2 linked regions of the Homo sapiens genome follow. The protein of the gene in region 2 purifies or fractionates together with the protein of the main gene of each other region. This does not show direct contact. Each region holds a gene or a part of one and is shown on either strand. Other genes may lie near its edges.

Region 1 (3,749 bases), about 16 Mb from region 2:
CTCTGCTCTGAGGGACCATCTGTGGGGTGAGAAGAAATTGGGCTCAGTGCTTACCATGTGGAAAGGGAGGAAGGGCTCTCCACATGGGACACAAGGGACAGCCATGAAGGACAGAGGCTGACGAGACCTCCCAGGGTGAGCTCCTTCCAGCACTGGCTGGTACCTGTTGCTTCTGCAAATGTTCCCCAGACCCTCTGCACTCTCGCAGGTCAGAGTAAAAAAAGGTTGGATTCTTTCATTTTAAAAAAAGTTTGAGACAGGGTCTTACTCTGTCACCCAGGCTGGAGTGCAGTGGTGTGATCATGGCTTGCTGCAGCCTCAAACTCTTGGGTTCAAAGGATCCTCCCACTTCAGCCTCCTGAGCAGCTGAACTAAAGACGTGTACAACTGTGCTTGTTATATTTTTAAAAATAGAGACAAGGTCTAACTATGTTGCCCAGGCTGGTCTTGAACTCCTGATCTCAAGCAATCCTCCAGCCTTGGCCTCCCTAAGTGCTGGATTACAGGTGTGAGCCTCCACGCCCTGCCGGGGTTGGATTCTTTTTATTTTTTTAAATTTTTAAATTTTTTTTGAGACTGAGTCTCGCTCTGTCGTCCAGTGGCGCAATCTCAGCTAACTGCAACCTCCGCCTCCCGGGTTCAAGCAATTCTCCTGCCTCAGCCTCCTGAGTAGCCGGGTCTACAGGCGCACACCGCCACACCTGGCTAATTTTTTGTATTTTAGTAGAGACAGGGTTTCACCATGTTGCCCTGGCTGGTCTCGAACTCCTGAGCTCAGGCAATCCGCCCCCCACAGCCTCCCAAAGTGCTGGGATTACAGGCATGAGCCACTGCACCCGGCCTGGGTTCTTTATTAAAGCAATGAATTCTGGATGTCCTGGCTTAACTAGATTAAGAGGGAATGAAGCTTCTTCTGAAGGATCAGTGTTACCACAGCCATTTCCTTGCATTACACCGTCCTTCTCAGGACGTCTATGAGAAGCCCTGGGCAGCCTGGACAGGGACTGCCCCATGAGTGCTGGTGGCTCACTTGGGGCTTTCTGCAGGTGAAGGAAGCAGCCCTGGGAGCTTCTTCCTTTGGCACACAGTGGGCTTCAGCTGGGACTGCACCAATCCTCTGCTAACAGCAACCATCCTTGGGGGGTCCGAGGGAGCAGCTGCGTGACTTTTCAGCAGTGGCTATGGTCACTCCTGAGGCCTGGGAAGAGGGTCACTGTCCAGCAGAGCTGGCCTGCTCCAGAGTGATCTGGACCTTGTGCCCCTTAACACAAGAAGGCCCGACTCCAAAGGCCAACACTGTCCTCTAAGTTTCCAGGACACTAAATGGCCACTTGGTCCTGGTTAACTCATTTCTAAACACAAAGGGGACAGGTCTGAGAAAGTGGCGTTCTCTACCCTACCCTGAGCTCATCTGTTCTGAGGACAAAAGGGACGGGTGTGTCCAGGCTGGTGGCAAAGGCTGCATTTCCGGGGTTTCTTTGCTGTGGACCCCATGTCTGAGGAACTGGCCCGGGGCCTTTTGCTTCTGGCTTCCGACTCCAGGGTTCTTCCTCTGTCTCCTGTCCAGGACGGGGCTCCAGAAGTCCCTGTCGGGAGAGTCAGGGGAGGGGTGAGGTTAGAACTGACATGCAGAAGTGGCAAGTCCTGAACACGGTGGCTCATGCCTGTAATCCCAGCACTTTAGGAAGCTGAGGGAGGAGGATTGCTTGAGCCCAGGAGTTCAAGATCAGCCTGGGCAACATGGTGAAACCTTGTCTTTAAAAAATGCAAAAATTAGCCAGGTGTGGTGTATGCCTGTGGTCACAGCTACTCGGGAGGATGCCTGAGCCTGGGAGGCTACAGTGAGCTGTGATCACACCACTGCACTCCAGCCTGGGCAACAGAGCAAGACCCTGTCTCAAAAAAAAAAAAAAAAAAAAAAAGAGCAGCAGACGATAAGGCTGAACCAACTTTTTTTTTTTTTTTTTTTTTTTTTGAGATGGAGTCTTCGCTCTGTCACCCAGGCTGGAGTGTGGAGTGCAGTGGCGTGATCTCCACTCACTGCAAGCTCCACCTCCCGGGTTCACGCCATTCTCCTGCCTCAGCCTCCCGAGTAGCTGGGACTACAGGCACCCGCCACCACGCCCGGCTACTTTATTTTTTGTATTTTTAGTAGAGACGGGTTTCATCATGTTAGCCAGGATGGTCTCGATCTCCTAACCTTGTGATCCGCCCGCCTTGGCCTCCCGAAGTGCTGGGATTACAGGCGTGAGCCACCGTGCCCGGCCTTTTTTTTTTGAGGTGGAGTCTGGCTCTGTCGCCTAGGCTGGAATGCAGTGGTGCAATCTTGGCTCACTGCAAGCTCCGCCTCCCGGGTTCACGCCATTGTCCTGTCTCAGCCTCCCGAGAGTAGCTGGGACTACAGGGACCGACCACCATGCCCGGCTAATTGTTTGTATTTTTAGTAGAGACGGGGTTTCACTGTGTTAGCCAGGATGGTCTCGATCTCCTGACCTCGTGATCCACCCGCCTCGGCCTCCCAAAGTGCTGGGATTACAGGCATGAGCCACCGCGCCCGACCGGCTGAATCAGTTTTTATACAGCCATGTACACCCCACCAGCCAGCCTCCCTTCACACTGTGTCCAACTCTGTAAGGTTGAGGTGCGATGTGCCTGCTGCCTTATGTTACCTGACACCTCTCCCTCAAGAATCCTAAGCTTTGGAGACATTGTCCCACACTCACTTGGTAAGTGGACTTTCATGCCGGCCCTTTTTACAGAGGCAGAAACCCAAGCAAGCTGGCCTGTGTGGTAGGGTGGGAAAGACAAGCAGCCTATGACCGGCAACCTGCGGCCCACCTCCATGCAGGAAAGTCCAGCTCTGGATCCCTTCCTGTCCCCTCAACAGGCCTTTCCAGACCAGCTGCTCATTTACCCAGGACAGTCAGTCAGCCAGCCTGGAGGTCAGATACCATGTCCTTCCAAGTGGGGAGACAAGAGGCCAGACTGCATCTCACTTCAAATGTGGGTCTCTCACTGCAATGGCCATCTCTGGGCCCCATTAGCACTGGTAGCCAGTTCCAAGTCCCACAGTTTTTACCAAACCTCTGGTTTCTTTCTGTGCATGCCGGGCTAGTGACACATGTGTAAGAATCATAGTCTGAGACTAAACTCCTTTCTAAAACAGGAACCCTATGAATGTAGGCAGGGACCATCTTGTTGAGCAAACTTGAGGCAGAGAGGCTAAGTCATTTGTTCAAGGTTATACTGCTGAGCTTTGGAACCAGATTTGCTCAACTCCAAAGCTCCCACTAGGCCTTTGGGTCATTCTCAGCTACTTAAGCTCTGTTGTGCACTGGAGCAGGAGGAACCATTCAAAGTGCCTCCACGTACACCATTCAACTTGATGCAATGTCCAGGTGCCACTTCTCATGACACCCAGTTCCCGGACATTGGCCCAAGCTGTGTCACCCTGGGCAGGTTCCTAAATATCATCGGGGTTGGCATCTTCATCTGAAGAAATGAGGCTGGGCCAGGCACGGTGGCTCACGCCTGTAATCCCAGCACTTTGAGAGGCCAAGGCAGGTGGATCACCTGAGGTGGAGTTCGAGACCAGCCTAACCAACAGGGTGAAACCCCCGTCTCTACTAAAAATACAAAATTAGCTGTGCGTGGTGGTGCATGCCTGTAATCCCAGCTACCTGGGAGGCTGAGGCAGGAGAATCATTTGAACCTGGGAGGTGGAAGTTGCAGTGAACCAAGATTGCACC
Region 2 (3,749 bases):
CCTTGCTGTGCCCCTGTGAGGGATTTAGCCGCTTACCTGACAGGAGAAGGCAGCTGTCTGCAGCTCAGGGTAACATCCATTCTGTTAGATGGTCTCTGTTTAAGGAACCTGTTCTTTGTGTGGTTACCCACCTTGGGATGGTATTTGGCCTTTCATCTCCGGCCAGCTCCTCTCCGCCACCACTGTGTTCCCGAGCCACTTTCTCCTTGGCCCCTTTTCCTTCATATCAATTGATGTGTGATCAAGAAGTACAATCAGTTTTCATAATAATTTAATACAAATTAATTTAGCTTCGATATTAGCAAAAGTAAAATTTCACTAAGAAGGTAAATCTACAAGAAAAAAGATAATGCCTTCTGATAAGTTGCTCTGGTTTATAAAATCTTTTGGGCCAGGCACGGTGGCTCATACCTTAATTCCAGCACTTTGGGAGGCCGAGGTGGACAATTGCTTGAGGCCAGGAGTTCAAGACCAGCCTGGCCAACATGGTGAAACCTCGTCTCTACAAAAAATACAAAAATCAGCCGGGCCTGTAGTCCCAGCTACTCGGTGCGTGCCTGTAGTCCCAGCTACTCGGGAGGCTGAGGCACGAGAATCACTTGCCAGGAGGTGGAGGTTGCAGCGAGCCAAGTTGGTACCACCACACTCCATCCTGGGTGACAAAGCAAGACTCTGTCTCAAAACAAAAAAACCACTTTTGGCTTCTGTATCAGGCATAGGAGGCCTTTTATGGAAACACTTTTGCTACCACGGTATATTGGCTGTCCGTTTCCACACTGGTACATTTCGGTGATGATCACCACGCAGCTGCTGCCTGAGAATGAGCATTAGCAGATTAAAGGACTACCCCAGACGGCCACTTTATAGCTTACGGGTTGTTGACTTTCCCAGTTTCTGATTTTAGGCCTGGGGTGGTCTGGCCACTGCCAATATGCAAGGCTAGTTTAAGAAAAGATTCTTTGGTACTTTGGCACTGATTCTCTTCACCACTGGGGGGCATCAAAGCAACTGAGATTCAAAGAAAGGTCATTCCGTTTCTTCAGTAGACTTTGGGCCAGGAGCAGTGCCTCACGCCCTGTAATCCCAGCACTTTGGGAGGCCGAGGGAGGAGGATTGTCTGAGTCCAGGAGTTTGAGATCAGCCTGGCCAACAGAGCAAGACCCCATCTCTTAAAAAAATTTTTTTTTCGAGACGGAGTTTCGGTCTTGTTGCCCAGGCTGGAGTGCAATGGCGCCATCTCGGCTCACTGCAACCTCCGCCTCCTGAGAATTGCCTACAAGTGATTCTCCTGCCTCAGCCTCCCGAGTAGCTGGGATTACAGGCACCCACCACCACGCCCGGCTAATTTTGTATTTTTAGTAGAGACGGGGTTTCACCATGTTGGCCAGGATAGTCTTGATCTCTTGACCTCGTGATCCGCCCGCCTCATCCTCCCAAAATGCTGGGGTTACAGGCATGAGCCACTGCGCCCAGCCTAAAAAAAATTTTTTTAATGGGCCTGGGCATGGAAGTCCCAGTTACTTAGCAGGGCAAAGGTGGGAGGATCACTGAGCTCAGGGGGTCAAAGCTGCCTTGAGCCATGATTGCATCATTGCACTCCAGCCTGGGTGACAGAGTGAAACTCTGACACAATTTTTTTTAATTTAAATATTATAAAAAATATATAATTACGAAGATACCAGCTTCAGCCGACATGACCGTGACCTGTGTGAAAGCTGGGCGGGTGGTGGGAAACCTGTGTCTGTCGCGTAGCAGCAAGTTGCATGTGGAGAAGCAGAAGCATGTCACATCAAGCGCTCGTCATCGTTATTCGTTCACGTTTTCAGGTTTGACGCAGAAGGACAAGCCTTAGATGGTGTTTCCATCTCTGATCTAAAGAGCGGCGGAGTCGGAGGGAGTAACACCAACTGGAAAACCTTGTATGAGGTCAAATCCGAGAACCTGGGCCAAGGCGACAAGGTACCCAGCATTCCTAACCACCTTCACAAAGGGCTGTAAAGTGTGCAGAAGGATGGATTTAGAAACTTGGTTTCCAGCACCAGCTGTCAGAGCCGTAATTCTTACCCGGGGCTGTGACCTGAGCGTGGCATGGGGGTTGAGAATCACTGGCAGAGGGAAGCAGCCAGGTGTGCTCATGGGAATATGTGTTACCCCTCAGGGGACTGGAGGCAGGAGAGTCTGAAGAACTCTTAGAGTCAATTCCTAGAGGGATCTTGGAGCAGGGGTGACAGTCAAGCTTTGTGGTATAATATCACCTGCTTTCGGGTCCACGTTTCTTTCCTGTGATCCTTCCTGCAAATTTAAGCGCCCACATATCAAAAAGATGTTTTTTGAGATGAGCGTTAGTCCGCCTCAGGTCAGACATGAGGCAGTTTCACGGGTGCTGTTCCTGGCTGTAGAATAGTGTATTAACCTCATAGGCTGAGAGCTGCCGGCATTCCCGGACAAGGATTGGCCCTGACATTTGACTTTTAGTTGCAGCTTTTTCCTTTCAGTGTTTGTATTTAATGACCCTCCTCCCATCTTGATCTAAGCCTGTGTTCTGCCAGCAGTTTAGTATTTAGATCATTTATTTCTCCTTTACGCCTGCTCTTTTATTTTCATCATATACAGTGTAGGTTTCATTCCTCCTGTCTCATTTCACTGTATACCCTTATCCATCATTGTCAACAGCAGCTCTTAAGTGCTCTTATAGAACATCTCAAGAATTAAACACTGGACAGATCCTCGTTGTCCTGTCATGGGACACCCACTCTTTCGGTTCTCTGTAATCCCAGCTACCCAGGAGGCTGAGGCAGGTGGATTACATGAGCCCAGGAGTTCGACTGAGCAACATGGAAGACCCCTTCTCTTGAAACAAAAACTTTATTGCTGAAAAATGCTGACAATCATCTGAGTCGTAATCTTCTTGCTGGTGGGGGTTTGTTTCAGGGTTGATGGCTGAGCAGTCACGGCGATGGTTGCTGAACATCGGCGTGTCTTTGGCAGTTTCTTAAAATAAGACAGCAGTGAAGTGTGCCACATTGGTTGACTCTTCCTTTCACAAAAGCTTTCTCCATAGCCGGCGATGCTGTTTGACAGCATTTTACCCACAGGAGAACTTTTTCAAACTGGAGTCTCTCCCTCTCAGGTCCTGTCACTGCTTTATCAGCCAAGCTTATGCAAATTCTAAATCCTTTGTCGTCATTTCAACAATGCTCACAGCGTTCTCACCACAAGAGATTTCATCTCAAGAAAGCACTTTCCTTGCCCATCGTAAGGAGCAGCTCCTTATCCGTTCAAGTTTGATCGTGAGATTACAGCAGTTCAGGCCCATTTTCAGGCTCCATTTGTAATTCTAGTTCTCTCGTTATTTTCGTCACATCTACAGATCCCTCCTCCACCAAAGTCTTGAAGCCTCAGTGTCTACCTTGAGGGTTGGAATCAACTTGTTCCAAACTCCCGTTGATGTTGGGATTTTGATCTCCTCCCATGAATCATGAATGTTCCTTTTTTTTTTAACTTGAGACAGGGTCTCATTCTGTCACTCAGGCTGGAGTGCACTGGCTTGATCACAGCTCACTGCAGTCTCAACCTCCCCAGGCTCCCAAGCTGGGACTACAGGTGCTGCCACACCTGGCTAATTGTATTTTTTGTAGAGACTGAGTTGTGTCATGTTGCCCAGGCTGCTCTCAAACTCCTGGGCTCAAGGGATCTCCCTGCCTCAACCTCTCAAAGTGCCAGGAGTTACAGGTGTGAGCGACTGTGCC

What was found. Proteins that work in one complex are often made in the same cells at the same time.
Region 1: the proteins of RPA1 (region 2) and TOP3A purify together in Homo sapiens (affinity purification with mass spectrometry; 4 studies listed by BioGRID and IntAct, with this or other methods). This does not show direct contact.

The regions. Positions count from the first base shown.
Region 1 is NC_000017.11:18,273,395-18,277,143, forward strand, and holds part of TOP3A (DNA topoisomerase 3-alpha), read right to left. Parts: intron 1,587-3,749; coding exon 1,408-1,586; 3' UTR 1-1,407. UniProt on the Homo sapiens protein: Releases the supercoiling and torsional tension of DNA introduced during the DNA replication and transcription by transiently cleaving and rejoining one strand of the DNA duplex.
Region 2 is NC_000017.11:1,881,986-1,885,734, forward strand, and holds part of RPA1 (replication protein A 70 kDa DNA-binding subunit), read left to right. Parts: intron 1-1,826; coding exon 1,827-1,959; intron 1,960-3,749. UniProt on the Homo sapiens protein: As part of the heterotrimeric replication protein A complex (RPA/RP-A), binds and stabilizes single-stranded DNA intermediates that form during DNA replication or upon DNA stress.